2 linked regions of the Homo sapiens genome follow. Changing the gene in region 1 together with any one later gene gives a genetic interaction. Each region holds a gene or a part of one and is shown in the gene's direction. Other genes may lie near its edges.

Region 1 (3,651 bases):
ACCCACACCCAGAACTGCCTGGCACATGGTCAGTGTAGTCAGTCTTGTTGAAAGAGTGTCACCCTTGTAGGGCACACTCAGCCCTTCTCCAGCCACTGACCTCCCCAAAGCCACGCACACCCACAATCAGACCCACCCTCTCATGGCTTATCTTAGGACGAGATGCTGGCCCGCTTCGTGGTGGGCAGCCACGTCAGACACCACCCCAGCAACAAGGAGGAGGAGGGGCTGGCCAATGGCAGCGCTGCTGAGCCCGCCATGCCCAACACGTATGGCGTGGAGCCCCTGCCCCAGGAGGTCCTGAAGAAGTACATCATCTACGCCAAGGAGAGGGTCCACCCGAAGCTCAACCAGATGGACCAGGACAAGGTGGCCAAGATGTACAGTGACCTGAGGAAAGAATCTATGGTGAGAGCCCAGGCAGAGCCGGGAGGTGCTATGCAGAGAAGGAAGTGCAGTGTGAGCCTTCTGACCAATGCAGCGGGGGTGGTGGTCAGTCAGGCCAAAAGGTGCCAGAGCAGGGAGGCATTAAAAAAAAAATGTAGGTGCCAGGCACAGTGGCTCACGCCTGTAATCCCAGTACTTTGGGAGGCCGAGGCAGGAGGATCACGATGTCAGGAGTTTGAGACCAGCCTGACCAACATGGTGAAACCCAAAAATTAGCCGGGTGTGGTGGCACATGCCTGTAATCCCAGCTTCTCAGGAGGCTGAGGCAGGAGAATCGCTTGAACCCGGGAGGCGGAGGGTGCAGTGAGCTGAGATCGCACCACTGCACTCCAGCCTGGGTGACAGAGTGAGACTCCATCTCAAAAACAAAAACAAAAAATGAAAGTTGGGTACAGTGATTCATGCCTGTAATCCCAGCACTTTGGGAGGCCAAGGCAGGAAGATTGCTTGAGGTGAGTTCAAGACCAGGCTGGGCAACATAGTGAGGCCCTTTCTCTACAAAAAATGTTTTGAAACTTAGCTGGGCCTGGTGGTTTGTGCCTGTAGTCCCAGCTACTCAGGAAGCTAAGGAAGGAAGATCTACTTGAGCCCAGGAGTTCGAGGCTACAGTGAGCTATGATGGCACCACTGCACTCTAGCCTTGGTGACACAGTGAAACCCTGTTTCAAAAAAAAAATATTTTTTTAAATGATAGGTATTAATATATACCTTAACCATTTTGTTTTAGATGAAATTTAAATGTGCATTCATTTGTCTCAGTGTAGGGCCAAGGCCTTAATTGTTGATGTGCTTATTAAGTTCCATATTGACTTTGTGTAAATTTCACTCTAATGAACACAAGGTCTTTGGCTCATTCATAGTGGAATGGAAACTTAAAGCAGCTTGCAAGCCATGGGAATGCCGAGTCCTTGTAGATTGCTGCCTCAGCCACACCCAGTCAACACAGCAGCTTTTCAAATTTCTGCCTTTTAACTTTACCAAGTTTTTTCAGATCATTCAATTTAGTTTTCCTACAAACAACGACCTTTTTTTGCACTTACATTGTACAGGATTATTCAATATTTAGTGTGTGACAATAACCAATACAGCTGGCCACAAATACAACAGCCTCTGAGATGCACAGAAGTCAGCTGGTGGGAGCAGAACTGTGCAGGTGTGATGGTGACAGGCCGTAAGCATGCAGCATCCACTGGCATCCTCTGATTTCCAGGAGGGATAGGAAGTGTGCATTCACTGGGCAGCGCAGTCAAGCATTCTGCATTTCTGCTGGGGCACTGTCAGATGGGTCTTCTTGGCTCTGGGTGCTAAGAGTGCCGCTGCTTTATTTTCCTTGCTTCTCTTTCCTGCCCGTGAAAGACCTGACACTGTGCTTCTCTCCAGGCGACAGGCAGCATCCCCATTACGGTGCGGCACATCGAGTCCATGATCCGCATGGCGGAGGCCCACGCGCGCATCCATCTGCGGGACTATGTGATCGAAGACGACGTCAACATGGCCATCCGCGTGATGCTGGAGAGCTTCATAGACACACAGAAGTTCAGCGTCATGCGCAGCATGCGCAAGGTGGGTGTGCTCCGAGGTAGGGGCCTGATGGGCAAGCTCAGTGAAGGAGGCCACACGTGGGTATCCAGGGCTCTGGCCTGGACGTGCACCCAGGAGCGGCAGCCTGTCTGACCTGGGTGCTGGCACGTAGGGTAAAGGGAGTGTGGCAGGCGTAGTGGGAGCGGGTGTTTGACTGAGGCTTTTTTCCTGCAGACTTTTGCCCGCTACCTTTCATTCCGGCGTGACAACAATGAGCTGTTGCTCTTCATACTGAAGCAGTTAGTGGCAGAGCAGGTGACATATCAGCGCAACCGCTTTGGGGCCCAGCAGGACACTATTGAGGTCCCTGAGAAGGACTTGGTGGATAAGGTATGGGCCCGGAAGGGAGGTGAGGGTTGGGGTATGCTGACTTGGGAGCTGCCAGTCTCCTGATGGGGGCTCCATCATAATGGGTCATGAAGTGGGTGGGCCTTGGTTGACAGCCATTTATTGAATGCTTACAGTCTGTTGAGTCCAGTTCTGTGCCTGTAGTCTGACAGCAGGGGAGTGAGGTGAGTCCTGTTACTGCCTTCCTGTTGTGCAGAGGTGGAGACAGATACAGGGCAGCCAAGTAACTTGTCTCAGTTTACACGCACAGCTTGTACAGCAGAGATTTGAAGCCCCTTAATCGGCCTCTCCACCCCTGGATATTTTCCTCCCATAAATGGAGGTGATGGTGTCTGAAAGTGCACTGTAACTGGGGCGCTCTGGAAACAGCCTGTTCTCACACCACTGATGGCTCACTGGACACTTCCTCCTTGCAGGCTCGTCAGATCAACATCCACAACCTCTCTGCATTTTATGACAGTGAGCTCTTCAGGATGAACAAGTTCAGCCACGACCTGAAAAGGAAAATGATCCTGCAGCAGTTCTGAGGCCCTATGCCATCCATAAGGATTCCTTGGGATTCTGGTTTGGGGTGGTCAGTGCCCTCTGTGCTTTATGGACACAAAACCAGAGCACTTGATGAACTCGGGGTACTAGGGTCAGGGCTTATAGCAGGATGTCTGGCTGCACCTGGCATGACTGTTTGTTTCTCCAAGCCTGCTTTGTGCTTCTCACCTTTGGGTGGGATGCCTTGCCAGTGTGTCTTACTTGGTTGCTGAACATCTTGCCACCTCCGAGTGCTTTGTCTCCACTCAGTACCTTGGATCAGAGCTGCTGAGTTCAGGATGCCTGCGTGTGGTTTAGGTGTTAGCCTTCTTACATGGATGTCAGGAGAGCTGCTGCCCTCTTGGCGTGAGTTGCGTATTCAGGCTGCTTTTGCTGCCTTTGGCCAGAGAGCTGGTTGAAGATGTTTGTAATCGTTTTCAGTCTCCTGCAGGTTTCTGTGCCCCTGTGGTGGAAGAGGGCACGACAGTGCCAGCGCAGCGTTCTGGGCTCCTCAGTCGCAGGGGTGGGATGTGAGTCATGCGGATTATCCACTCGCCACAGTTATCAGCTGCCATTGCTCCCTGTCTGTTTCCCCACTCTCTTATTTGTGCATTCGGTTTGGTTTCTGTAGTTTTAATTTTTAATAAAGTTGAATAAAATATAAACGCTGGTATCTGTTGGCTTCCATTCCGCTTTAGTAAGTAACCTGGACTTCCGCTGAAGGCCCTTTCCACCTTCTCCGTTCAGAGT
Region 2 (3,651 bases), about 52 Mb from region 1:
TAGGGTCTCTATGGCAGTGTAATAGTGGCAGGAGGAAACACACTAATACAGAGTTTTACTGACAGGTTGAATAGAGAGCTGTCTCAGAAAACTCCTCCAGTAAGTTCTGTTTGTTCTTTAATGGTATTCTTCAGTCATATATTTCCTCACTGATGGTGTAATTTTGTAGATAAGCGTCCATTTTTCAATAGATACATGATATTTTGTGTGTGCCTGGTATAGTATCACTAAAGTTAATATCCTTTAATCGTTTTCCTAGTTGACATCTATTAGTTTCTCTTAAATTATTTGAATCTCATTTATTAATATTTAAATATGTATAGTCTGCTAGGCACTAGTCCCTGCACACCAAGGGCTCAGTCTACTAGGATGGTTAGACATGCAGAAAATGATGACTGTAACATGCTCAACAATTCAGTATGTCATGAACGAGGTGCTGTTGGGAACACCAAGAAGCCACTACTTAACTCTCTAGGAGTATCAGAGGATAGCCTCCTGAAGAAGCTATAGTTTGAATGAATAGTTCAACTCATTGCTAATTTATGAAAGGATATCTAGATGGAGGGAATAAAACCATTTACAAAAATACTAAGAGAAGACAGGTATGTTCCAGTAATTCAAAGTAGTTGGCTTCTAGTCTTTACGTAAGTGGGGAAAGCAATATGGCTAGAAAGATGGATTAGTTTCCTAGAGCTGCCGTAACAAAGTACATGTTAGTGGCTTCAAACAACAGAAATTTGTTGTCTTATAGTTCTTGAGGCTAGAAGCCTCAAGGTGTCAGTGGAGCTATGCTGAATCTCTAGGGGAAAATACCTCCTTCTTCACAGGATAAAATCTAGCAGTGGACTGATGAGCTCATGTTTGTTTTAAAAAGATCAGTGGGTATATTATAATAACTTTTAAAAGAATAGAAAAACTCGGTTTGAGAAGGTAATTTATATAGTACTTCGGTAACAGAATGACAGTTATAATCTTTTAACTTTAAAATTTCTATCAGCTGGGCGTGGTGGCTCACGCCTATAATCCCAGCACTTTGGGAGGCCGAGGCAGATGGATTATGAGGTCAGGGAGACCAGCCTGGCCAACATGGTGAAACCCCATCTCTACTAAGAATACAAAAATTAGCTGGGCCTGGTGGCGGGAGCCTCTTAATTCCAGCTACTCGGGAGGCTGAGGCAGGAGAATTGCTTGAACCCGGGAGGTGGAGGTTGCAGTGAACTGAGATCACACCACTGCATTCCAACAGAGCAAGACTCCATCTCAAAAAAAAAAAAAAATAACAAAAATTAGCCGGACACGGTGGCACGTGCCTGTAATCCCAGCTACTTGGGAGGCTGAGACAGCAGAATCGCTTGAACCCAGGAGGCGGAGGTTGCAGTAAGCCGAGATCATGCCACTGCATTCCAGTCTGGGTGACAAAGCAAGACTCTGGCTCAGGAAAAAAAAACAACAACAACAAAACTTCAAGTGCTTTTTTTGTAAGGTGTTCTGCACTGAAGATTACATTTAAAAAACCTTATTAGTGGTTACATATGCCCTAACAATATCTATAAATCTGTATATTTAATAGTCTTTTAGCTTCCCATATAAAATAATGTTTTACGTGTGCCACATTTCTATTATTAAAAGTGATATCTAAATATATAGGCACACAGTTGACATCTGCCTTGTATTTTCTAAATTCTTGGAGATCTAGAGCATACCTGAATTATAATACTAATCATTAGATTGATTGATTGATTGGAGATTTATTTATTTATTTATTTACTTGAGATGGAGTCTTGCTCTTGTCCCCTAGGCTGGAGTGCAGTGGCACGATATCAGCTCACTGTAACCTCCGCCTCCTGGGTTCAAGTGATTCTCCTACCTCAGCTTCCCAAGTAGCTGGGATTACAGGCATGTTCCACCACACCCGGCTAATTTTTTATTTTTAGTAGAGATGCAGTTTCTCCGTGCTGGTCAGGCTGATCTCAAACTCCCGACCTCAGGTGATCCACCCGCCTCGGCCTCCCAAAGTGCTGGGATTATAGGCGTGAGCCACTGCACCGGTCTATAATACTAATGATTAGATTTCATAGAAAGTCCCTGAATAATGAATACAGATAAGCATGGCCCAAGCTGTGGTCAAGGCCAGTTAGAAACTATCCTTGTCCTTTAGGAGGTGATAACAATCTCTGAAAGAACAGGAAAAAAATTCTATTTAATAGTTACCAATCTTTCTTACCTACAAAAACCCATGTTTACCCTATCCCCAGTACCTTCTACCCACCCATATCCCATACTCTACCCACCCTTGCTGCACACATACTTATTTCACTTTGAAAAGCCCCAAAAATATGTTCATTTATAGAATAATAGGAAGATGTCAACAACTTGAGAACTGTCCCCAGAGGCAGATTCCTTGGTAAGAGAAAGAAAAAAACCTCTTCATATAGGAAGTGAGATATAGGGGATAGTACTGTGCAATAAAATTGTGTTATCAAGAGAAAATGAGAGTCAGAACAGAAGCACTAATTTGGAAGGAAATAGTATGAATAAAAAACTAACCTGATATCTGATGGTTGTGTTTTTATTTAGAAGGGTTGGGGTGAACTAAGGAGGGATTAGGATAGCATGAAAGCCTAGAAAGGAAGCAGTTAGAAGGTTGGGGAGGACTACAGAAAGGGAGACAGATTGGGATGATAATTAGGTTGGTGTTGGATGAAATGAAATAATAAAGACTTAGCACAGCACCAGATTTATAGTGTTAGGTGTGGATTTGCTATTTTAGGATAGAAATTGTGAATGCTATACTTCAGTATGCAGCTTTTTAAAGTTTGTATGTTTTCTCATCATATAATCGCATGTTAAAAGCCATAATCAAAGTACTTTTAAAAGTCTGTACATTAGTCTAACCTATGCTTGTTATCTTGGCTATTTCAAAATTACCGTATTTTAATCAGTGTTTGAACCACAGGGAGCCATTATGAAGTCTGTCAAAATTGAATTTCCTGGCTGGGTGCAAGTGGCTCATGCATGTAATCCCAGCACTTTGGGAGGCTGAGATGGGCCGATTGCTTGAGTGCAAATGTGAAGACCAGCCTGGACAATATGGCGAGGAAGACCCTGTCTCTATTTGAAAAAAAAAAAAAAAAAAAGAATTTTCTAAGTTGAGTCACAAGATTTGATTGTACTAATGCATATTCTTCTATTTCAGAGTATGCGGTTGAAATTGATTGCAAATAATACAACAGTGGAACGGAGGTTTAGCTCATGGATTGGCGGCTCCATTCTAGCCTCTTTGGTTAGTAGATGAGCTACTTTGCAAAAATATTCTTACTGAATTATACTAAATTTAGTAAAAATACAAAAAATAATTCCAGTGCTTCATTTGTCTGTGCATTTTATAACTGTCAAATGAGTGGAAGACCTAATGGAATAACCAGTTTTATGTGTTCTGATGTAACAAAATGCCTCTGCCTAATTAGTGGACATTTGTCAGCCTAATTTCAATGTCCCCTCTCAAACAGAGGTGGAAATATGTTAATGTATGCATGCCTTTTCTAATAATACCCCCATTGGCACTGGTCAGGGCTTGTCTGGAGTGCATTTAAAATGAAAACATTGCTTCTCAAGTTCTGGTCATTCCCCAGTCTGCAGTGAGATCTACAG

What was found. Genes that interact genetically often act in the same process or in processes that back each other up.
Region 2: changes in MCM2 (region 1) and ACTL6A together harm fitness less than expected from each alone (positive genetic interaction), as found in Homo sapiens cells (one large-scale study listed by BioGRID).

What each region holds. Positions count from the first base shown.
Region 1 is NC_000003.12:127,618,871-127,622,521, forward strand, and holds the end of MCM2 (DNA replication licensing factor MCM2), read left to right. Parts: intron 1-156; coding exon 157-408; intron 409-1,827; coding exon 1,828-2,010; intron 2,011-2,202; coding exon 2,203-2,358; intron 2,359-2,792; coding exon 2,793-2,903; 3' UTR 2,904-3,566; downstream 3,567-3,651. UniProt on the Homo sapiens protein: Acts as a component of the MCM2-7 complex (MCM complex) which is the replicative helicase essential for 'once per cell cycle' DNA replication initiation and elongation in eukaryotic cells.
Region 2 is NC_000003.12:179,583,350-179,587,000, forward strand, and holds part of ACTL6A (actin-like protein 6A), read left to right. Parts: intron 1-3; coding exon 4-99; intron 100-3,196; coding exon 3,197-3,283; intron 3,284-3,651.